Linked DNA regions of Homo sapiens: region 2 is linked to region 1. Evidence: fine-mapped expression QTL. A gene starts in region 1. The other region holds a variant in brackets. All regions are shown on one strand. Distances are from middle to middle. Region 1 holds the start of ING4 (inhibitor of growth family member 4). Region 2 overlaps NOP2 (NOP2 nucleolar protein).

Evidence for each region.
Region 2: its variant is fine-mapped to the expression of ING4 in whole blood (INTERVAL, PIP 0.94).

Annotation. Positions count from the first base shown.
Region 1 is chr12:6,658,224-6,670,641 of GRCh38, reverse strand. It overlaps ING4 (inhibitor of growth family member 4), which reads left to right and starts at 7,523. Exons shown (of 8, transcript NM_016162.4): 1 at 7,523-7,577. The coding sequence starts at 7,541. ZNF384 (zinc finger protein 384) reads left to right here. Exons shown (of 12, transcript NM_001385745.1): 11 at 1,453-1,611; 12 at 2,527-4,165. The coding sequence ends at 2,928. RefSeq lists an enhancer at 7,493-7,552.
Region 2 is chr12:6,555,117-6,567,534 of GRCh38, reverse strand. NOP2 (NOP2 nucleolar protein) reads left to right here. Exons shown (of 16, transcript NM_001258308.2): 3 at 713-758; 4 at 918-1,006; 5 at 1,199-1,434; 6 at 3,589-3,644; 7 at 3,764-3,921; 8 at 4,021-4,220; 9 at 4,365-4,454; 10 at 5,564-5,651; 11 at 5,731-5,871; 12 at 6,465-6,604; 13 at 6,748-6,837; 14 at 6,966-7,088; 15 at 7,209-7,437; 16 at 9,893-10,664. The coding sequence ends at 10,542. It overlaps IFFO1 (intermediate filament family orphan 1), which reads left to right and starts at 11,493. Exons shown (of 10, transcript NM_001193457.2): 1 at 11,493-12,278. The coding sequence starts at 11,506. RefSeq lists silencers at 11,316-11,475, 11,526-11,765, 11,876-12,055. The variant T/C (reference allele first, on the strand shown) is at 6,356.

The sequences.
Region 1 (12,418 bases):
AAAGAGTTTTTGTTTATGTGGGTAATAGCTGTCTACATAGACGTTGTAAAACTGAAAAACCTGAAAAATATTTATAATAGTAATCTGTTTAGAAAGAACAAAAATAAACCCATTGTGTGTTAACATAAATAACATATTCCAAGACCCTCCAAAAACAACTGAGTGAGAAGAATGGCATTATTATACATTTTTGCAGGTGTCTATTTTTTATTTTTGGGACAGGACCTTGCTCTGTCACCCAGGCTGAGTGCAGTGGTGTTATCATGGCCCACTGCAGCCTCAGCCTCCCGGTCTCAAGTGATCCTTCCACCTCAGCCTCCCAAGTAGCTGGGATTCTAGGCATGCACCATCACACCTGGCTGTTTTTTTCATTTTCGTAGAGATGGGGTCTTGCTATCTTCCCTAGGCTGGTCTCGAACTCCTGGACACAGGCCATCCTCCCGCCTCAGCCTCCCCAAAGTGCTAGGATTGCAAGCATGAGTCACCGCACCTGGCACAGGGGTCTTTAATGTCTTAAGCTAGAAGATGAGTAGATTCTCAGATCTGCTGCATCTGGCCTATTGTGTTATCACACATCATGTAACCTCTGTAAGGGTTACATGTAAAACATAAGGCACAATGAAGCCACTTGAAATTTTGAGGGGAACAAGATTTCAGTTAGGTTTTTCATCTTTGTGTTTGTGTGTGTGTGTGTGTGTGCGCGCGCGCGTGTGCGTGTTTGAGACAGAGGCTCGCTGGGTCACCTAGGCTGGAGTGCAGTGGTGTGATTTCAGCTTACTGCAACTTCCCAGGTTCAAGAGAGACAAAGGCAAACATTGTCTTATTATTTTGAAAAGATTTGGCTGGGCGCGGTGGCTCACACCTGTAATCTCAGCACTTTGGGCGGCGGAGGCGGGCGGATCACCTGAGCTCAGGAGTTGGAAACCAGCCTGGCCAACACGGTGAAACCTTGTCTCTACTAAAAATACAAAAAAAATTAGCCAGGCCTGGTGGCATGTGCCTGTAGTCCCAGCTACTTGCAGGCTGAGGCAGGAGAATCGCTTGAACCCGGGAAGCGGAGGTTGCAATGAGCCGAGATTGTGCCGCTGCACTCCAACCTGAGCGACAGAGTGAGAGACTTCATCTGGGAAAAAAAAAAAAAAAGAGTTTTGACCCTGTGGGCCCCCTGTGAAGGTCTTAGTGTTCCCTAAAGATCCCCATGCCTCATTTTAAGAACCACTGGACTGGTGAGACGGGCATAAGCTGTCTTGGGATCCTGGTATGTGCTACATGAGGTATGCTTCCACCCTTAGCCTGTAGCTTCTCAAGTTTCATTTGAAACAATTTCTACTTTCTTCAGATAGAGGGAGAAGCTGGGAGGCCTGACACCTACCTTTTTGCTTTCCATCGAGGTCAAGGGGGCAGGAGGAAAGAGTACAATGTATTCATTCTGGTTTCTCCCAATTTTCTCAGTCCCACAGACGGCAACACAACAAAGATAAACCCTTCAAGTGCCACAACTGTCATCGGGCGTACACGGATGCAGCCTCACTAGAGGTGCACCTGTCTACGCACACAGTGAAGCATGCCAAGGTGTACACCTGCACTATCTGCAGTCGGGCATACACATCAGTGAGTGCTCCGTTTCTTCTCTCCTTCCTCATAGTCCTCTAAGAGTACAGTCCACTTCACCCCATTTTCTGGGTAGAGATCTGTTGCAGTGAATACCCTGCCTCCCTAGCTCCAACTTAGCAGAACAGGTAAATATTCAGAAATTAATTAGACCCATTCTGAGGAATTTAGGGGATGCCTGATCTCCTAATCCTATAGAGACGCATAAGCTGTAATTCTTCATTTTACTTAAACATAAGGCAAAATAAAGCCACTTGAAATTTTGAGGGGAGCTGGATTTCAGTTAGGCATTTTCTTCTTCTTTTTTTTTTTTTTTTCTTTTTGAGACACAGTCTCGCCCTGTCACCCAGGCTGGAGTGCAGTGGTGTGATCTCGGCTCGGCTCACTGTAACCTCCACCTCCTGGGTTCAAGCGATTCTCCTGCCTCAGCCTCCCAAGTAGGTGGGATTACAGGTGCATGTTGCCATGCCCAGCAACTTTTTGTATTTTTAGTAGACATGGGGTTTCACCATGTTGCCCAGGCTGGTCTCAAACTCCTGACCTCAAGTGATCCACCTACCTCAGCCTCCCAAAGTACTGGGATTACAGGTGTGAGCCACCGCACCTGGCCCAGTTAGATATTTTCCATGAGACTCCAGAAAAGGTTGTAAAGTTGTTTCATTCAGGGGTCTTTGAAAAAAATAGCAGCTCATTCCTTTGCCAGTTGAATGTTGAGTGACTTCTAAAGGTTCCTCTCTTTTTTTTCTCAGTAGTGAGCCACTGAAAGTGCTACTTGAGTTTTGCTCAGTCTTGGCTCCAGAAAACCAGTATAAAGCTTACTCTGCTTACAGCAGAATCAGAGCCTGGGGTGCTAGTTACAAGTAATCTCTTTTCCTTCCTCTTTATCCCTCAACTTCTTTTTACCATCTCCCTCAGGAAACATACCTTATGAAACATATGCGCAAACACAACCCGCCTGATCTTCAGCAACAGGTGCAGGCAGCAGCAGCAGCGGCAGCAGTGGCCCAGGCCCAGGCTCAAGCTCAAGCCCAGGCTCAGGCTCAGGCTCAAGCCCAGGCCCAGGCCCAGGCCTCCCAGGCATCACAGCAGCAGCAGCAGCAGCAGCAGCAGCAGCAGCAGCAGCAGCAACAGCCACCACCACACTTCCAGTCTCCTGGGGCAGCCCCCCAGGGTGGGGGTGGTGGGGACAGCAATCCCAACCCTCCACCCCAGTGTTCCTTTGACCTGACCCCGTATAAGACGGCGGAGCATCATAAGGACATCTGCCTCACTGTCACCACCAGCACCATCCAGGTGGAGCACCTGGCCAGCTCTTAGAGATCCGTGCTGCCACCCACTGGGAAGAGGAAGAAGTAGTCCTGGTGTCTTCTTTCTCCAACTCTTGGTGGGAAAAGTCCTTTTCTTCCTTGACAGGCCTTGGCTCCATCTCCTTGGGCCTCTGTCACGGCTTTCCTTCACAGGATACCATCCTTTTTCTGAACTCTTCTTCAAAAGGAACATCAGCCCTCCTGATTGCAAAGGAATACTGAGCTGATGGTGTCATCCAGCAGCCTCCCCTCCCAAGCAAAGCTTCTAAAACTGGGGGTCGGTGCTCAAGGGAAGGATTTGCTATGACCTCATAGAACCTTGTCCAGTGTGGCCACTTACCCTATCCTTACCCTCCTTATCCTCAAAGTTTGGGCTGATGTAAGACTAGAGGCTGGCCCTCCCAGATAACAGAGAAAAGGGAGCCCCAAATGCAACCAGCCTCTTGTTCTATTCTTGCCTGCAAAAGAACAGAGGTTTCTCAAATGCCTCAGTCCCTGAGAGCCATTTCTTCCCCTACATCGTCTCACTTTGCTTCCTATTGACTGCTGGTAGAAGGAGATTTGGGGTAGGGGCTAGACCTCCTTTTATTTGAAGGGGGCAAGGGCTGAGATGTGGTCCCCAAGGGGCCAGAAATTCCCAAGTTGGTCACAGGTGGCTTAGAAGTGTGTGTTATGGTTTTACGGATTTCCTTGAAGCCTCTCTCCTTCTCTGCCTACAAAGACCCTATACTCTCAGTCTCCCCAACCCACCCCCAAGGAGCTGTGGGAGGCTTTGTGTTATCTGTGAAACTCCAAAACAGGGGTGTTGCGGAGAAGGGAGAGTTCAAGGCAAACGCAAGGACTGGACTTAGCTCCCTAGGTGCCACAGTCAGATGCCGGACACGGATTTATATATAAATATATATATATAAATATATTATACTCACTCATCACGGCCATCTTTGTTGTAACCATTTCTGTGTTTATAAATGCATTATCTCTGAGAATTTTCATATTTGATGTTTTGTTTATTTTTGTCCTTTTTTTCCCTCTCTCCACCCCTGTCCTCTAGCCACAGCATTTTTCTTTTTGTCTTTTTTTTTTTTTTTTAAATCATGGCAGATTTCAGAGGAAAGGAAATTAAAAAAAAAATCAGGAAACCAGTTGTTATAAAGTAATTTAAAAATGAAGAAAAAAAGAAAAAAACTTATGTACAAACCAAGGGGTGTTTTTAGAACATTGTATAGAAATAAATTCATGTAAAAGGATCAGAGGCAGTGGAGCTACTGATGTGAGCGAGCATGCGGAAAAGGTATTTGGGGAGATGTCCAAGAACAGTACTGAGGATTTATACCAGAGTGTGTGTGTGATGAACAAGTGCTTGTGTGATGATGCCCCATTTGTGCAATTCTCCAGTCATGGAAGGGTACAGTTTCATGATGTCTCCAGTGAAATCCTGGTTTATGAGGACTTCTACATACACATTCTGTCATGGGGATTGCATTGCCTAAATATGTGAGAGCAAGGCTTTGGTTATGTGTTAACAAAACAGCTAAGCTCCCTATGGAAGAAAAATGGAAGCCTCTTGAAAGGACCTACACTCCTGCCTGAGTCTGTGGAAGAGGGGCTTGCAGTTGGCAATGTGTATACATATGTGTATTTGTTACCTTGTGGAAATCATAACCGGTTAAGGGGTGCAAGATTGATTTATGCAGGAGAGCTGTAGTACTATGGAGTAGAATGTGGTCATGAAACCTGGACTTCAGCCCTTTGCCTACCATCAACCAGTGTTGGCCAGGGTGCTTCTTCAACTGTTAGTGAAGGGATTGGACTAGATAACTCTGAAGATACCTTTTTTGAGAATTAAGTAACTTGCTTTAAGGCTGGGTGCGGTGGCTCACGCCTGTAATCCCAGCATTTTGGGAGGGCGAGGCAGGCAGACTACTTGACGTCAGGAGTTCAAGACCAGCCTGGCCAACATGGTGAAACCCCATCTCTACTAAAAATACAAAAATTGATGGCCGTGCACGGTGGCTCACGCCTGTAATCCCAGCACTTTGGGAGGCCGAGACAGGTGAATCATGAGGTTAGGAGCTCGAGACCAGCCTGGCCAGTATGGTGAAACCCCGTCTCTACTGAAAATACAAAAAATAAGCTAGGCATAGTGGTGGGCGCCTGCAATCCCAGCTACTCAGGAGGCTGAGGCAGGAGAATCTTTTGAACCTAGGAGGCAGAGGTTGCAGTGAGCCAAGATCGTGCCATGGCACTCCAGCCTGGGCGACAGAGTGAGACTCTCTCTCAAAAAAGTAAAATAAAAATACAAAAATTAGCCAGGTGTGGTGGCACGCGCCTGTAGTCCCAGCTGCAGGCTGAGGCAGAAGAATGACTTGAACCTGGGAGGCGGAGGTTGCAGTGAGCCGGGATTGCACCACTGCACTCCAGCCTGGGCCACAGAGCGAGATTCTGTCTGGAAAAAAAAAAAAAAACAAAAAAAAAAAAACCTTGCTTTAAGCACCGAAAAAGTTGTGAAAGTTGTGACCAAGCTCCCACATCCTGAGAACTCTGGGACTGCTGGCCAATAGTACTTGTTATGTAGTTGGGCTGGGATAAATAAAGCCCACTTAATTTAGTGCTAGATATCCTGTGTGGGCACCTAAGATGGTGTCTCAATATGTTGTGTAATACCAATGAATGTATCACATATGACCAAATATGCCAATGTTTCTTAGCTCCCTGCATATTTACTGCTTTTTCCTCCCACTCTCACCAACTCTTGAAAAGGCCCTAATGGCCCTAACTTCATCACCAGTATTAGAACTAGAATCTACTCTTTTTATGGATACACTCACACTCACTTATTCCAACAACCCTATGAGGGAGGTAGTAGTCTCATTGTATAGTAAAACAGGCACAGAGATCAAGTTACCGAAAAGCATGACTTTTGTAATTAGAGCAGTTTCCCGGATTCTATTGCTGTATCTTACTACCTGCACACTAGTAAACCTGGGGTTTACAGGCTACAGATCCTTTCAGCTCTGATACCCCCACCACTCTACAGCCCCTGAACCCCCTCCTCCAGCCTGCTCTTACTGTCCAGATAATGTTTCAAATACATCCCTGCATCCATCTCGAAGCAAAACAAAGCAACTTCCAATCCGCCCCGGGTTGGAAGTTCCTCTTCTCCACATATTTGGTAGAAATTATATAGCTGAAAGTCTGTCTCTTTAAAAACTTGCCGTAAGACATTGGTAATTCTTATGAAGGATGTGTGAGGGTACGAAAAGTGTGAGGGGTGGCAGCTATCTCTAAAATACTATCTTACTAACACCACTATTAGGTTATGGCCTTTGTGTTGGCAGTGTGTTGACAGCCTAGTGTGTTGGCAGCCTCTCATACCCTTGACTGCTTCCCATTCTGATGAAAACCATAGAAATCACTCTACCATAGCTGACTAGAGTGATGGCTAGCAACTAACTAGCCAACTAGCCCAGTAGTGATACTGCTGCATCCCTCAATCCCTTCAGAATTATGATGCTAACATCACATATAAACAAAAGGAAAACAAAAACACGAGATTTCCCCCTTAGAGAGTAGCAAGAGGGGCCAGGCACAGTGGTTCGCACCTGTAATCCCAGCACTTTGAGAGGCTGAGGTGGGCAGATCACCTGAGGTCGGAAGTTCGAGACCAGCCTCACCGACATGGAGAAACCCCATCTCTACTAAAAATACAAAATTAGTCTGGCGTGATGGTGCATACCTGTAATCCCAGCTACACGGGAGGCTGAGACAGAAGAATCACTTGAACCCGGGAGGTGGAGGTTGCGGTGAGCCATGATCACGCCATTGCACTCCAGCCTGGGCAATAAGAGTGAAAATTCTGTCTCAAAAAAAAAAAAAAAAAAGCAAGAGGGCAAGGCAGGAAGTAATATTTTATATGTGAAAGTGTATTCTAGTGTAACGTACAGGAGCTCTGACAAAAGATGTGCAGAATTATAGCTTTATTATGAGTCATTCTTTGTATTTATAAGTAGAAAGGTGATCATCTTTCTCAAGTTAAAAAAATAATGCTGGGGGAGATGGTGTTTGTGTGAGTGAATAGAAATTCAGACGGTTTAAATGTCTCAAGGCCTGATACTCTTCCCCAACTTCCTTAAGAAACTAACTGGCTTGAAAAAAGTCATTCTGCAAAAGAGGGAAAAAAAGTTGGATCTTCCAGTTGCTGAGAAGGTATGTTTACGCAATATGAGCCTAAAGTGAACAGTTACCCCTGCACGGATTACCATACATTCCCGTTTTGGAGGGAAAAAAGTTTGCTAGAGAATGCAAAATGGCGACCTCCAGTGACGTCATACCTGTCTCGGTCGCGTCCTGGGGTGTCTGTAAGGGCGGAAGCGGGCTACAGCCGCCTCACTGTGGGCGGTCGTGGCTACCATGCAAAAGGAAAAGTTTCAGTGTCGGGCGGATGTGTACCGGCGGTAATATAGTAAGGGCGGAAGTTCTCCTTTAAGGGCGGAAGTTCTCCTTTTAAGGGCGGAAGTTCTCCTTTTAAGGGCGGAAAGGCTTTAGCCGCAAAATGGCTTCGGCCCCTGTCGCGTTACAGTCACTTCCGGGGCGGATCGGAAGTTGCTTTGTTTTGCTTCGAGATGGCTGCGGGGATGTATTTGGAACATTATCTGGACAGTAAGAGCAGGCTGGAGGTGGGGGTCGGGGCTGCAGAGTGGTGCGGGGATCAGGGATGAGAGGATCTGTAGCCCTTAAGTTCCAGTGACGAGAAGGTCACAATTATGAAGCGGTTCTGTGGCAGGAAATATTGGAGGGTGCGGAGAAAGAGGGGGCGGGGCAGCAGGATCGAGGCCCCGCTGATGGGTGTAGACGAGGGAGGGGTGCGGTGTGGGGGTTAGAGACGTGTCTTGAAGGGCTAGTGTGCATGGCCAGGAAGATAGTTGCTGCCCCCATTCTCCAGGGTCTCCAGCCTCGGTAGATTTTTTTCCCCATAGTCGTTCAGAATCGTTATCACACACTGCCATTTGGAGAAGCGGTAAAGACCTCTCCTCCACTCCATTCTTCCTCAAAAGTGGCTTCTCATGGGGTTGAGAGTGGTGGTGATGAGTGACCACTGTCAGATGATGAACTAGAACGCTTCTCTTCATGGAGTAAAGATCTAATTCCCATCAAATGAAAATCTGGTGTTTATGCGATTTATGTAAACCACCCCTGCAGAAAGCCTATTGCTCTGTGCGCTTACATTTGTTTTAGGGCCCGGAGTCATTTATTCAACAAATATTTATTGAGGTCCTGCTATGGGTCAGACATAATGGCAGGCACTAGGGATAGAAAAATGAGTAAGACAAGGCTCCTGCCCTCAAGAAGCTCACGATCTAGTAGGAAACAGATTCTGCAAATAATTATAAAACACTGTGACAAGTGAGATAATGGAAATACATTAAAAAGGACACTTGGTAGGCAACCCTGGAGAAAAGGGGGGTAATTACCTGGGGATGTAGGAAAAGCTTTACAGCGGAGGTGATGTTTGAATAGGGTCTTGAAGGTTATTTGCCAGTGAGGAGAGAAAAAAGGAATTCCAGGTTGGGGAAAGCATCCGCAAAGGTACTGTGATGGGTTTGTGGCAAGGTCAAGGGTGTTTGATATTTATGACTCAGAGGTCAGCGTATTTGATATTTATGAATCTAAGGTAAGAAATTGAGAAAGGAGACTGGAGAAAGAGGCTGAGGCTAGATTGGACAAGGTCTTTTAAGCCAAACGAAGAAGTTTGCATTTTAAAGTAGAGTATGATTTTTATAGAGGAAAATGACTAATATATGGTAAATTGGAGCATGATATTGTTGATAACAGAGATCAATTAGTGATAACATTCCAGGACAGAGATAAGAACCTGATTTTAGGGAGTTACAGAAGTATTTAGGAGTTAAATATGAAAGGACTGACTGAATGACTGAGTGGTTGAGAGAGAAGGAAGAATCTAAGGTGGCTTCTTCCTGCTTAGAAAGTGAGGTAGACAGGCTGGGCACAGTAGCTCATGCCTGTAATCTCAGCACTTTGGGAGGCCAAGGCGGGCAGATCACTTGAGGTCAGGAGTTTGAGATCACCCTGTCCAACATGGTGAAGCCCAGTCTCTACTTTAAAAAAAAAAAAAAATTAGCTGGGCATGGTGGCATGTGACTGTAATCCCAGCTACTTGGGAGGCTGAGTCAGGAGAATCACTTGAACCCAGCAGGTGAAGATTGCAGTGAGCTAAGATCATACATACCACTGCACTCCAGCCTGGGTGACAGAGAAAGACTCCGTGTCCCTCTCAAAAAAAAAAAAAAAAAAAAAAACAAAGGCTGGTGGCCAGGCACGGTGGCTCATGCCTGTAATCCCAACACTTTGGGAGGCTGAGGCAGGCGGATCATGAGGTCAGGAGATCGAGACCAGCCTGGCTAACATGGTGAAACCCCGTCTCTACTAAAAATAAAAAAAATAGCCAGGTGTGGTGGTGTGCCCCTGTAGTCCCAGCTACTTAGGAGGCTAAGGCAGGAGAATCGCTTGAACCTGGGAGGTGGAGGTTGCAGTGGGCCGAGATCATGCCACTGCACTCCAGCCTGGGCAACAGAGTGAGACTCCGCCTCAAAAAAAAAACAAAAACAAAAAGGCTGGGAGCGGTGGCTCACGCCTATAATCCTAGCACATTGGGAGGCTGAGATGGGTGGATCGCCTTAGGTCAGGAGTTCCAAGACCAGCCTGGCTAACATAGTGAAACCCCGTCTCTACTAAAAATACAAAAATTAGCTGGGCGTGGTGGCAGACGCCTGTAATCCCAGCTACTTGGGAGGCTGAGGCACAAGAATTCCTTGAACCTGAGATTGCGCCATTGCACTCCAGCCTGGGCGACAAGAGCGACACTACACCTCAAAAGAAAAGAAAAGAAAGTTACTCAGCGGAGAAAAGATCATGCCAACTGCTGCAGAGATATTTTTTAGGATAGGCTTAATAACACCATTAGATTTGGTAAATCACCAGTGACTCAGTCTTGTGAACTGGTGGTAGCAGACCTGAAGTTGTAGGTTTAAACAGTAGAGGCATTTTATTTTTTTTTATTTATTTTATTTTAGTTTTTCTGTTTGTTTGTTTGTTTTTGAGACAGAGTCTCACTCTGTCACCCAGGCTGGAGCGCAATGGTGCGATCTTGGCCCACTGCAACCTCTGCCTCCCGGGTTCAAGTGATTCTCCTGCCTCAGCCTCTTGAGTAGCTAGGATTACAGTGCCCGCCACCATACCCAGCTAATTTTTGTATTTTTAGTAGAGATGAGGTTTCACTGTGTTGGCCAGGCTGGTCTCAAACTCCCAACCTCAGGTGATCCACCCACCTTGGCCTCCCAGAGTGCTGGGATTACAGGCATGAGCCACCGTACCAGGCCTTTTATTTTTTATATATATATTTAATTTTTATAGAGACAGGATCTGGCCATATTGCCCAGGCTGGTCTCAGACTCCTGAGATCAAGCGATCTACCTGCCTTGGCCTCCCAGAATGCTGGGATTACAGGCGTGAGCCACTGTGCCCAGCAAGTAGAGGCATTTTTAAAGTTTTAGGTGGAGTCTTGGCAAGAGATTTCTCTTGTACTGGGGTGACAAATATTCATGCATTTATTCAAGTATTTACTGAGTACCTGCTCTTTGCAAGTCATAATTCTAAACACTATGGAAACAGGAGAGAATATGATAGCCATGTTCGGCCTGGGGAGACAGATACCAAATAACTAATTACACATTATTTTTTTTAATTTTTTTGTTTTTTGAAACAGTCTTGCTCTTTTGCCCGGGCTGCAACCTCTACCTCCCTGGTTCAAGCAATTGTCCTGCCTCAGTCTCTTGAGTAACTGGAACTACAGCCACAGGCCACCATGCCCATCTATTTTTTTTTTTTTTTTTTGAGACAGAGTCTCGCTCTGTCGCCCAGGCTGGAGTGCAGTGGAGCGATCTCGGCTCACTGAAAGCTCCACCTCCTGGATGCACGCCACTCTCCTGCCTCAGCCTCCCGAGTAGCTGGGACTACAGGCGCCCGCCACCACGGCCAGCTAATTTTTTTGTATTTTTAGTAGAGACGGGGTTTCACCATGTTAGCCAGGATGGTCTCAATCTCCTGACCTCGTAATCTGCTCTCCTCGGCCACCCAAAGTGCCGGGATTACAGGTGTGAGCCACCGCGCCTGGCCTAATTTTTGTTTTGTTTTGTTTTTGAGATGGAGTCGCACTCTGTCACCCAGGCTGAAGTGCAGTGGTGCGATCTCAGCTCACTGCAACCTCCACCTCCCGGATTTAAGCAATTCTTGTGCCTCAGCCTCCCAAGTATCTGGGATTACAGGTTTCACCATGTTGGCCAGGCTGGTCTTGAACTCCTGGCTTCAAGTGAGCCACCCGCCTCGGCCTCCCAAAGTGCTAGAATTACAGGCATGAGCCACCGTGCCTGGCCCTAATTTTTGTATTTTTAGTAGAGATGGGGTTTTGCCAGGCTGCCAAGGCTGGTCTTGAACTCCTGGCCTTGAGTGATCCACCTGCCTTCCAGAGTGCTGGATTACAGGCATGGGCCACCGCACCCAGCCAACTAATTACACATTTATTTAATTACAGTTGGATAAGTGCTTTAAAAAGGTGGCTAGAATACCTTGACATAGATCGAGGGCAGTTAACAGAGTCTGGGAAAGTTGAGTTTGAGCTGAACTTTGGAAGAACGAACAGGAATTTAATAGGCCAAGAGGGATGGGGTGGATGGGATGAGGAAAAGCGAGCGGTGCATTCCAACTAGAGAGAACAGCATGTGGAAAGCCAAATGGCAGGAGGAGCACAGGCCAGTTTGAGGCAGTGCGAGGAGGCCAGTATGGGCAAAGCAGAGCACAAAGGGAGACTGACATGAGTTCAGGCTGGTGTGAGGTAAGCAAGGGCCAGAAAGCGCAGAACATCTTCAGAGCAGTAGGAAGTGACCAGAAGGTTATAAGCGGGAGAGTGACTTGATTAGGTTTGCATTTTTTATTTTTGTGTTTGTTTTTGTTTTTGTTTTTTTGAGTCAGTGTCTTGCTCTGTCATCCAGGCTGGAGTGCATTGGCGTGATCTCGGCTCACTGAAATGTCCACCTCCCAGGTTCAAGGGATTTTTGTGCCCCAGCCTCCCAAGTAGCTGGGATTACAGGCATGTGCACCAAGCCTGGCTAAGTTTTTGTATTTTTGGTAGAGACAGAGTTTCACCATGTTGCCCAGGCTGGTCTTGAACTCCTCAGCTCAGCTGATGCGCCCACCTGGGCCTCCCAAAGTGCTGGGATTACAGGCATGAGCCACCGTGCCTGGCCAGGTTTGCATTTTTTAAAAAGGACATTCTGGCTACTATATGGAAGTAGATTGGAAGTGTTATGTGTATAATAGAGGATACCAGGAGACTATTTGTAATTTGAGGACAAAGAGCTTGGAGGCAGAGATGGAAAATAAAAGAAAGGGGCCCGTCTTAGTGGCTCATGCCAGTAATCCCAGCA
Region 2 (12,418 bases), 100 kb after region 1:
TTTTGTTAAGCTGGGTTTTGAAAAATGGGTAACATTGTAGCAAGAGGAAGTAGTGAAGGGGAGGGGTCAGTCACTGATTTGCCTTTTGGAAGGGGTGGAAATGGAAAAGCACGGATCTGGCTGCTTCATGCCGAGTAGTAGTATACTGTGTGGAAGACTGGTGGGAGGTAACACTGGACCGGGAGTTTGTGTTGGGCATTGGATAAAGGATGCAGTTTATTGAGATAGTAGGAAGTCCTGGGCACTGTATTAAACTTGTTGGTCATGTTATATCGCTTAATCATCTTAGAGTCCTGTGAGAGAGGCACTATTAAGGAAACACTTTGGGAGGCCGAGGCAGGTGGATCACCTGAGGTCCAGTGTTCGAGACCAGCCTGGCCAACATGGTGAAACCCTGTCTTTACTAAAAATACAACAATTAGCTGGGTGTGGTGATGGGAGGCTGAGGCAATAGAATCGCTTGAATCTGGGAGAAGGAGGTTGCAGTGAGTTGAGATCACGCCATTGCACTCCAGCCTGGAAGACAAGAGTGAAACTCCATTTCAAAAAAAAAAAAGAAACTTGTATACAGTTATTAAATAATAACAGGGCTGAGATTTAAATGGACTCCTTTTAATTAGTGTACTAATTCTCTTACCATGTTTATTTCCGTTCCCATTTATTTTTAATGTCCCCTGTAACTTGTTCTGCCTCGTTTTTCTTTTTTAAACAGTAAGTGACGAAAATTCCAAGAGGCTGTCTAGTCGTGCTCGAAAGAGGTAAGTGTGGGTGTCAAAACTTAAGTAGGTTAAATTGGTACTGCTCATCTTTGACCACAGAGTTAATTCTAGACTCTCACATTTCCCTATGGTGGAAATGGCAGAGCCTGGAAGTATCTTCCCATTTCTTCACTCCTTGAATCTCTTGTGTCTTTTCAGGGCAGCCAAGAGGAGATTGGGCTCTGTTGAAGCCCCTAAGACAAATAAGTCTCCTGAGGCCAAACCATTGCCTGGAAAGCTACCAAAAGGTCCGTGAAACTAAGAGCTGGATGCTACATGAGGAGTCCCTTTGGGTCCTGGGTAGGGAAGAACTCGCTAAACATTTCCGGAGTGAAAGGAACAGCCAAAGGACATTCTGAGGGGTAGAAAGTACAGGCTCCCAGGGTGTGGGGCCAGGGAATGTGTGGCTGCCATTAGTCCAGGACTCTTCAAACCCTTAGGGATCTCTGCAGGAGCTGTCCAGACAGCTGGTAAGAAGGGACCCCAGTCCCTATTTAATGCTCCTCGAGGCAAGAAGCGCCCAGCACCTGGCAGTGATGAGGAAGAGGAGGAGGAAGACTCTGAAGAAGATGGTATGGTGAACCACGGGGACCTCTGGGGCTCCGAGGACGATGCTGATACGGTAGATGACTATGGAGCTGACTCCAACTCTGAGGATGAGGAGGAAGGTGAAGCGGTGAGATTCATCTTTTTGGGCATTCATAGAAGGATCCTTGCTATTTAGTTTCTTTCCCAGATTCTTGAGACTGTTTCTTAGTGGCAAGGATAAGCCTGACTAGAGGAAAGGGGTTTTTGTGCTCCATCACTGTTTCCCTACTGCCTTATATCCTCCCAGTGCACTACAAGTTTGAAAGAGCTGTAGGATAGAGCATTTAAAAAAATCTAGAAGGCTGTCTTGGTGTAGGTATGGGAAGGTGGACAATGGTGTGCTCCACTGATGGGCACAGAAATGCACTTTTTATAAAGCAGTTATCTCAGAACTTTGAAAAATTTGTTCCTTTTGGCTGGGTATGGTGCCTCACATCTGTAATCCCAGCACTTTGGGAGGCTGAGGCAGGAGGATTGCTTGAGCCCAGGAATTGGAGACCAGCTTGGGCAACATAGGGAGATCCCGTATCTACAAAAAATTAAAAAATTGGCCTGGCACAGTGGCTCATGCCTATAATCCTAGCACTTTGGGAGGCCAAGGTGGGCGGATCACCTGAGCTCCGGAGTTCGAGACCAGCCTGGACAATATGGCGAAACCCCATCCCTACTAAAAATATGAAAATTAGCTGGTGTGGTGGTATATGCCTGTAATCCCAGCTACCTGGGAGGCTGAGGCAGGAAAATTGCTTGAACCTGTGAGGCGGAGATGGCAGTGAGCCGAGATCATGCCATTGCACTCCAGCCTGGGCAACAAAGTGAGACTCTGTCTCAAAAAAAAAAAAAGTTAAGTTAAAAAATGGTTTAAAAATTAGCTGGGTGTGGTGGCGTACGCCTGTAGTCCCAGCTTCTCAGGATGCTGAAGCGGGAAGATGACTGGAGCTTGGGAGGTTGAGGCTGCAGTGAGCTGTGATCTTACCACTGCACTCCAGCTTGGGTGACAGAGTGAGACTGTCTCAAAAAAAAAAAAAAAAAATAACTGCTTCCTTTTGACATAGTAATTCCCTATTAAGGAAGATGATCCAAAATGTCAGCAAATAGTTCTTTACTGAGGTGCAGGAAGTTATTATACAATTAGTGTGTGGATGTATTATTAGAATCGTATAGAATAAAAAGAGAAGGTCCCCATGTGCACCCCCTTCCTACATCCCCTTGTATCTACAGGGTCATTATTAGGTTTGCAGGCACCATGTGGATCATAATGCCAAAAACTCAGGAAACTTCCAAAATACACAATATGCTTAAGTAAGTTATGGTTCATGCATATGATGCAGTTACACTGGTCATTATGTCTATGAAAATGCCTGTGATGTAACTGAAGTCTAAAAAGCAAGAAACAAACTTGAAAATGGATTATGTGAAAAATACAGAGTAAGTAAAAAAAAAAAAAAAACGACAAAATGGGCCAGGCACGGTGGCTCACACCTGTAATCCCAGCACTTTGGGAGGCCGAGGTGGGCGGATCACCTGAGGTCAGGAGTTCAAAACCAGCTTGGCCATCATGGTGAAACCCCATCTCTGCTAAAAATACAAAAAATTAGCTGGGCATGGTGGTGCGCGCCTATAATCCCAGCTACTTGGGAGGCTGAGGCAGGAGAATCATTTGAACCTGGGAGGCGGAGGTTGCAGTGAGCCAAGACGCGCCATTGCACTCCAGCCTGGGGGACAAGAGCGAGACTTCTCTCAAAAAAAATATGGCAGAATGGTAGTCAAGGGCCATTTTTGTCCTTCTTTATACATCCAGGTATTTTTCAAGTTTTTTTTTTTTCTTAATGGAAAAGTGAAAAACATAATAGTAGAAAGAAAAATGTAATGAACCCTTTAATTTATTACTTAGGTTTTTTTTTTTTTTTTTTGAGATGAAGTCTTTCTCTGTTGCCCAGGCTGGAGTGCAGTGGCTCGGTCTTGGCTCACTGCAACCTCCACCTCCCGGGTTCAAGCAATTCTCCTGCCTCAGCTTCCCAAGTAGCTGGGATTTACAGGTGTGTGCCACCATGCCCTCATTACTTAGTTTCAACAGTGAGCAATGCTGCGCCCATCTTATTTTCATTTCTTTGCTCCTCTATTTCCTTCTGAGAGCAAGTGTTGGATTTTTATTTAGCGAAAAAATAAGATATAGAGATAGAACTGCTACAAGGGCTGATGGAAGGGCAGGCCTGTATTAATAGCCCTTGTCTCTCTTCAGTTGCTGCCCATTGAAAGAGCTGCTCGGAAGCAGAAGGCCCGGGAAGCTGCTGCTGGGTGAGTTTTGGAAGCTATTGGGATGGAGCATAGGAAGCCACTGGGGTGGGGAAGCTGTGAGGAAGGAGGAGGTATCTGTTTTGGTCTGTGAATCACTCTGTTCCTGGACCTGTTTCTAGGATCCAGTGGAGTGAAGAGGAGACCGAGGACGAGGAGGAAGAGAAAGAAGTGACCCCTGAGTCAGGCCCCCCAAAGGTGGAAGAGGCAGATGGGGGCCTGCAGATCAATGTGGATGAGGAACCATTTGTGCTGCCCCCTGCTGGGGAGATGGAGCAGGATATCCTTGCAGGGCAGAGTGAAGAGTTAGGAGGAAGGTGGTTGGGAGAGGGATTTCCAGGCCTTAGGACATCATGACACAGTTCCTTAACAGGCCCACATGCCCAGGCTCCAGACCTGCAACGAGTTCACAAGCGGATCCAGGATATTGTGGGAATTCTGCGTGATTTTGGGGCTCAGCGGGAGGAAGGGCGGTCTCGTTCTGAATACCTGAACCGGCTCAAGAAGGATCTGGCCATTTACTACTCCTATGGAGACTTCCTGCTTGGCAAGCTCATGGACCTCTTCCCTCTGTCTGAGGTACTGGATTGCCAGAATGCCTCTTTTGCTTTTCTTTTCTCGCCTCCTTACGCTGTGTAAGGAAGATGTTCGGCCCCCTTGCTCCCCTCTTCTGACTGAGCTCCTTAGCCAGCCTCACTTATTCCCTGCTGTCTTGCCCCGCAGCTGGTGGAGTTCTTAGAAGCTAATGAGGTGCCTCGGCCCGTCACCCTCCGGACCAATACCTTGAAAACCCGACGCCGAGACCTTGCACAGGTGAGGGGTGGCCTTTGAGGCTCACTCATCTCAGAAGGGAAGTGACTTCTGCCAACTCCAGAGATTCCTCTGTGCTACCCTGACTGGGTGGGGCCTTAGGACCTAAGCATGATCCTGGGGGGGCAAACCCAGAGGCCTGATGTCTCTGGCAGGATAGGATCTGGGGGCCTAGGACCTCTGTGGAATGGGAAGTTCATACTCTGCTCCCTGTGACTAGGATGATGAGACTTCAGGATGAGCGTGCTGCCCCCAAGGAAATTGGAGGGAGATCATTGAGGAGCTGGGGAAATATGATTCCTGACTGCACAAAAAAGACACATATGCACAGTCAATATTTTAAACTCATTTCCAAGGGTTCAGGGGCCCCAGGTTAAAGACCCCTGTTGTAAAGTCAGTTGTTGGGTTATATGTGTTGTATATTTCCTGGTGTGAAGAAAACCTAATAATGTAATGTGGTATAACCAATGTCATTAAATTTTTAGTATAGTGGAGGGGCTCAGCCTCTTAGAAAATCAGATGCCACTTCTAGGAAATAAAGTAACAGGAGGTGGCATCCTGCTCCATTGGGATGAAGTTCAGATCTTGAGTTAGGAGCCTGAGGTTAAGAAAAAAGGGCACCATAGGATGGAGTGGGAGAGAGAAACTGCTCAATGACTCCATGATGACTGTGTTTGGAGTAAGCACTATAGGAGTTGTGGGGTATGGGCCATGTTTTTATGAAGCATGTGTTTAATGTCTTCATCTGTCTTCTGGGTAGAGTAGCCTATGAGGTTATTAAAATCTTCATCCCTACCGGGCGCGGTGACTCAACGCCTGTAATCCCAGCACTTTGGGAGGCCGAGGCGGGCAGATCACCTGAGGTCAGGAGTTAGAGACCAGCCTGGCCAACATGGTGAAACCCCATCCTATGAAAAATACAAAAATTAGCCAGGCATGGTGGTACATGCCCGTTGTCCCAGCTACTCAGGAGGCTGAGGCACGAGAGAATCGCTTGAATCTGGGAGGTGGAGGTTGCTGTGAGCCGAGATTGCGCCACCTCACTCTAGCCTGGGCAACAGAGTGAGACTCCATCTCAAAAAAAAAAAAAAAAAATCTTCATCCCTTTTCAGGCTCTAATCAATCGTGGGGTTAACCTGGATCCCCTGGGCAAGTGGTCAAAGACTGGACTAGTGGTGTATGATTCTTCTGTGCCCATTGGTAAGTCTCCCCCACCCAAGAGCCCTTCTACCTCTGTCCCTGTCCCTACCGCATGTCACAGGGTGGTCCTTCTCCACAGGTGCTACCCCCGAGTACCTGGCTGGGCACTACATGCTGCAGGGAGCCTCCAGCATGTTGCCCGTCATGGCCTTGGCACCCCAGGAACATGAGCGGATCCTGGACATGTGTTGTGCCCCTGGAGGAAAGACCAGCTACATGGGTATGAGAGGGGCAGGCAGGTGGGATTCATCGGGCTGTCTTGCTTTTGAAAGTAGATGGGGTTGCTGGGGTTGCTGACTCACTAGTGCTCATGGAACACAATGTGCAGGTAGCTAGCAGGGTGGTGAGGACCAGTTTCTGGAGTCGGCCTGGGTTCCAGTGTGCCACTTACTACCCATCTGACTATGGATTCTCTTTTGTCATCCATAAAATGGGATGGTAATTGTGCTTGGGTTGGCCCTTGTATTACGCTTGGATTGTGAGGGTTAAAATGATGCGTTTAGAAGTCCTTGGCAGTGTTCAGCACATAGTCAGCAGCCATAACTTTTATTAAGCTGCTGTCACTTAAAAGAAGTAATTTAGTATGTAGGACCACATAGGTGTTTGGTAAAAATGGGAAAACCACATCGGTAGACTTGCCGATCACCAGGGGCTAGTGCAGAGTGGATCAGCCTATACAGTAGGCAGGCTTGTTGGGAGCGAAG[T/C]TGCCTTGAGGTGATGACACTTCTCATGTGGATTCCTGGACAGGAGGGTGGGAGCAAGTGTGGAGACAGTGGAACTGGCTGATCAGCACTGTTACTGCCCTCTCTTTAGCCCAGCTGATGAAGAACACGGGTGTGATCCTTGCCAATGACGCCAATGCTGAGCGGCTCAAGAGTGTTGTGGGCAACTTGCATCGGCTGGGAGTCACCAACACCATTATCAGCCACTATGATGGGCGCCAGTTCCCCAAGGTGAGACTCGAGCTGTGTGTCTTCTGAGGCTTCTTCCGGTTGACCTTCTCCCTTCCTGACCTCAATGTTTAGACTCGACCCTAGTAAATATTGCCCTGCTGGTTGCAGAAGAGACATATGATTCATCTGTATCTTTTCTCCAGGTGGTGGGGGGCTTTGACCGAGTACTGCTGGATGCTCCCTGCAGTGGCACTGGGGTCATCTCCAAGGATCCAGCCGTGAAGACTAACAAGGTGAGGAGTCAGGTGGTGGGCCCCTGAGAGGCCTTGGCTGGGTCTCGTAGAGCTGGAAACTGAGATGGGGACACCCTCTGGGCTCCCCTCTCCTCCTGAGGCTGCCTTTGGGTCTCTTTTTGGGACAGGATGAGAAGGACATCCTGCGCTGTGCTCACCTCCAGAAGGAGTTGCTCCTGAGTGCTATTGACTCTGTCAATGCGACCTCCAAGACAGGAGGCTACCTGGTTTACTGCACCTGTTCTATCACAGTGAGACCTCTGCCATGGCAGAGCAGGGGAGGCTGGGCTGGGGGGCTCTTTGCCCCTTAGAGCTCCCTTCAGCTCCAGCTCTGCTTTTTCCTCCGTTCTTTGTCTTCCCCCCACATCCAGGTAGAAGAGAATGAGTGGGTGGTAGACTATGCTCTGAAAAAGAGGAATGTGCGACTGGTGCCCACGGGCCTAGACTTTGGCCAGGAAGGTTTTACCCGCTTTCGAGAAAGGCGCTTCCACCCCAGTCTGCGTTCTACCCGACGCTTCTACCCTCATACCCACAATATGGATGGGTTCTTCATTGCCAAGTTCAAGAAATTTTCCAATTCTATCCCTCAGTCCCAGACAGGTAAGTAATCTTTTTCTTCCCTTCGTCACCACCTTTGCTCTTTCCACCTTTCAGGAGGCTTTATGGTGTGACAAGAGGAAGGGAAAGGAAAGATTCATGCATCCCTTACTCCAGCCTTTGCATGCTTGGCTGAGAGAACCCTCTCATTCCAGCTAGAATTGCTTTTGAGTGCTGGACCCCATGTGAACAGGCTAAAGTGTTCATATGGATGGAGGCCTGTTCCTTTATTCTGCCAAGTGGCTGCAGTTGTTCAGCACTAAATGCATTCCAAATGCAGGTTGTGGTTTCTTTTCCTTCTTGGCACAGGGTGGACTTACTGGTACTGGACCTCTGCTGGTCCAGCAATCTCAGCACTGGGTTGGAACAGAGCTCCACAGAGCTTTGTCAGCAGTTCTCTGAGCCCTTCACACTCATTGCAGATTGTTTTCTCAGCCATCTTGAGGAGTCTGGCCTGGATCTCAAGGGAAGGGTGGGGTTTTCTGAAACAGCCTTGAGAGCACTGCTTACTGGGATATAACCCTGGGTTTAGTTGGAAGAGGGAGAGAAGTGCTACTTTAGAAATAGTAGAATTTGTCTGGGCGTGGTGGCTCATGCCTGTAATCCCAGCACTCACCTGAGGTCAGGAATTCGACACGGTGAAACCCTGTCTCTACTAAAAATATAAGAATTAGCTGGGTGTGGCCAGGCACGGTGGCTCACGCCTGTAATCCCAGCACTTTGGGAGGCCAAGACGGGTGGATCACGAGGTCAGGAGATCGAGACCATCCTGGCTAACACAGTGAAACCCCCATCTCTACTAAAAATATAAAAAATTAGCTGAGCTTGGTGGTGGGCGCCTGTAGTCCCAGCTACTCGGGAGGCTGAGGCAGGAGAATGGCATGAACCCGGGAGGCGGAGCTTGCAGTGAGCTGAGATTGTGCCACTGCACTCCAGCCTGGGCGACAGAGTGAGACTCCGTCTCCAAAAAAAAAAATTAGCTAGGTGTGGTGGTACGTGCCTGTAGTCCCAACTACTCAGGAGGCTGAGGCAGGAGAATCACTTGAACCTGGGAGGTGGAGGTTGCAGTAAGCCGAGATCACGCTATTGCATTTCAGCCTGGGCAACGAGCAAAACTCCATCTCAAAAAAAAGGAATAGTAAAATTTGCTATAACTTAAAAAGTACATATTTTAATTATCCCGCACTTCATCACAATTCACATGGAAAGAAACTTCTCTGATTTAAAAAATAAATAGGCCAGGTGTGGTGATGGCTCATGCCTATAAATCCCAGTACTTTGGGAGGCTGAGGTGGGAAGATTGCTTAAGACCACGAGTTTGAGACCTGTCTGGGCAACAAAGGGAGACAGTAGTTCCAGCTACTCTGGAGGCTGAGGTAGGAGGATCCCTTGAGCCCCAGGAGTTTGAGGTTGCAGTGAGCTATGATGGCACCACTGTACTCCAGCCTGGGCAACACAGTGAGACTCTACCTCAAAAAAAAAAAAAAAAAGATAAATAAAGCCTAGTGCTTCAAATTCATTTAGAAGACCCTGCGAGGCCGGGCGTGGTGGCTCGCGCCTGTAACCCCAGCACTTTGGGTGGCTGAGGCAGGTGGATCACCTGAGGTCAGGAGTTCAAGACCAGCTGGTCAACATGGTGAAACCTCATCTCTACTAAAAATACAAAAATTAGCCGGACATGGTGGCGCACGGTTGTGATTGTCCGGAGGCTGAGGCAGGAGAATTGCTTGAACCCAGGAGGCAGAGGTTGCAGTGAGCCGAGATCACACCACTGCACTCCAGCCTGGGTGACAGAGTGAGATTCCATCTCAAAAAAAGAAAAAAAAAACCCCAAAACCCTGAGAATCACCTCTTCCTTACAGCATCTTGTTACTTCCTGTCCTCAAGAGGGCGCAGCTTCCTGTAGAAACCTTTTGGCCCAAGGATAGGCAGTGATTTTTTTTTTTTTTTTTTTTTTTTTGAGACGGTGTCTTGCTTTGTCGCTCAGGCTGGACTGCAGTGGTGCAATCTCAGCTCATTGCAACCTCCACCTTCCAGGTTCAAGCGATTCTTGTGCCTCAGACTCCCAAGTAGCTAGGATTACAGGTGTGTACCACCATCCCTGGCTAATTTTTGTATTTTTAGTAGAGATGGTTTCACCATGTGGGCTAGGCTGGTCTTGAACTCCTGGCCTCAAGCAATCCACTTGCCTTGGCCTCCCAAAGTGCTGGAATTACAGGTGTGAGCCACCACGCCTGGCCTATAGGCAGTGATCTTTTAATACAAGGTTCAACTAGGACTTGAGTAAAGGCCAAGTTATATTAAGTAATGGGAATTTAGGTAATCTGCTCTTAGGCACTGACCTAATTGTGTGGAGCTCCTGCCCAGGAAATGGCAATTCTCATATTTTAATATGAGAATATTAAAATATGGTGATAAGGCCCATTTTCTGACACCATCTGTTTAATTTTAACCCCAGGAAATTCTGAAACAGCCACACCTACAAATGTAGACTTGCCTCAGGTCATCCCCAAGTCTGAGAACAGCAGCCAGCCAGCCAAGAAAGCCAAGGGGGCTGCAAAGACAAAGCAGCAGCTGCAGAAACAGCAACATCCCAAGAAGGCCTCCTTCCAGAAGCTGAATGGCATCTCCAAAGGGGCAGACTCAGAATTGTCCACTGTACCTTCTGTCACAAAGACCCAAGCTTCCTCCAGCTTCCAGGATAGCAGTCAGCCAGCTGGAAAAGCCGAAGGGATCAGGGAGCCAAAGGTGACTGGGAAGCTAAAGCAACGATCACCTAAATTACAGTCCTCCAAGAAAGTTGCTTTCCTCAGGCAGAATGCCCCTCCCAAGGGCACAGACACACAAACACCGGCTGTGTTATCCCCATCCAAGACTCAGGCCACCCTGAAACCTAAGGACCATCATCAGCCCCTTGGAAGGGCCAAGGGGGTTGAGAAGCAGCAGTTGCCAGAGCAGCCTTTTGAGAAAGCTGCCTTCCAGAAACAGAATGATACCCCCAAGGGGCCTCAGCCTCCCACTGTGTCTCCCATCCGTTCCAGCCGCCCCCCACCAGCAAAGAGGAAGAAATCTCAGTCCAGGGGCAACAGCCAGCTGCTGCTATCTTAGATGGTTGAAAACTAGACGGGTGGCTCACTGCCATTGTCACCAGGTTGGAACTCTTGCCTCTGTGAGGATGCCTTCTCTACTGTGCATACCCATGAAATTTAATACACATTTTAAAACCTCTGGCCACTGAGTATTTTTGAGGGAACTGGGTGCTGCCTTTGCCGCTTTAAGGGTAAAGATGGGAGGTGGGACTGGGATCTTCTGAGGAGAGGGAATGGTTGGGTGCTACTGAGAAATAAGGTCAGTTTTAGGCTCCTGCATCCTTGGGTTTTCCCAGGAAGGGAAAGCCCTGGAGTCAGAGCTAGGGGTGATTGAACTCCGGGGAGAGGAGGGCAATAGAAGTGTAGGGGAAGGCGGGGCACACTAGCTCATGCCTGTAATCCCAGCACTTTCTGGGAGGCCAAGGCGGGTGGATCACCTGAGGTCAGGTGTTCGAGACCAGCCTGGCTAACATGGCGAAACCTCGTCTCTACTAAAAATACAAAAAATCAGCCGGGTGTGGTGGCGGGTGCCTGTAATCCCAGCTACTCGGGAGACTGAAGCAGGAGAATCGCTTGAACCTGGGAGGCTGAGGTTGCAGTGAGCCAAGATCGCGCCACTGCACTCCAGCCCGGGCGACAGTGAGACTCGGTCTCAAAAAAAAAAAAAGTCGTGTAGGGGAGATGGGCTTGCCACCAGAACCCATGGGGTACTGGAGGTCCTGGGCTTTACGCCACCCCGGCTGGAGTCCAGGCGGTGGCTCCCCTCATCACAGGGCTCGGCCTCAGACCCGGAAAGGTCCAGGGTCCGGCCTCCAATTGGAGCCTGTCATTGGCTTCCCCTCGGCCCGCCCCCTGACCTCTGCCCCGCTGCCGAGCCGCCTGATTGGTCGGCTCTGTCCCGCCGGCGCCGCATTGGCTCTTCTGGCTCGCCTTCCATCCCTGCTCCTGCACCGGTCTGCATCTCCCAGCAGAAGGCGCAGCCATGAATCCGTTATTCGGCCCCAACCTCTTCCTCCTGCAGCAGGAGCAGCAGGGCCTGGCCGGGCCACTGGGGGACTCACTGGGAGGCGACCACTTCGCCGGGGGAGGAGACTTGCCCCCGGCGCCTCTCTCGCCGGCCGGCCCTGCTGCCTACTCGCCGCCCGGGCCGGGCCCGGCCCCGCCTGCCGCCATGGCCCTCCGCAATGACCTGGGCTCCAACATCAACGTGCTCAAGACCCTGAACCTCCGGTTCCGCTGCTTCCTGGCCAAGGTGCATGAGCTGGAGCGCCGGAACCGGCTGTTGGAGAAGCAACTGCAGCAAGCGCTGGAGGAGGGTAAGCAGGGCCGGCGGGGCCTGGGTCGTCGCGACCAGGCAGTGCAGACCGGCTTCGTCAGCCCCATCCGGCCCCTGGGGCTGCAGCTGGGCGCCCGGCCGGCCGCTGTCTGCAGCCCTTCGGCGCGCGTGCTGGGCTCGCCCGCGCGCTCCCCGGCCGGCCCCCTCGCGCCCTCCGCGGCCAGCCTCTCGTCGTCCTCCACCTCCACCTCCACCACCTATTCCTCGTCGGCCCGCTTCATGCCCGGCACCATCTGGTCGTTCTCGCACGCCCGCCGGCTCGGGCCGGGACTGGAGCCCACTCTGGTGCAAGGGCCTGGCTTGTCGTGGGTGCACCCGGATGGGGTGGGCGTCCAGATCGACACCATCACGCCCGAGATCCGCGCTCTCTACAACGTGCTGGCCAAAGTGAAGCGGGAGCGGGACGAGTACAAGCGGAGGTAGGGATTGGGAAAGGGGGACAGGTCTCTCTGTGTCATACCACTCACAACGGGCCGCGAGTTGGTGTGGGTTCCGAAGAATCAGGGGTGAAAAGAATGAGAGTAAAGTTTGTGCTGTGTAATGAGGAGCTTGGAAGCAA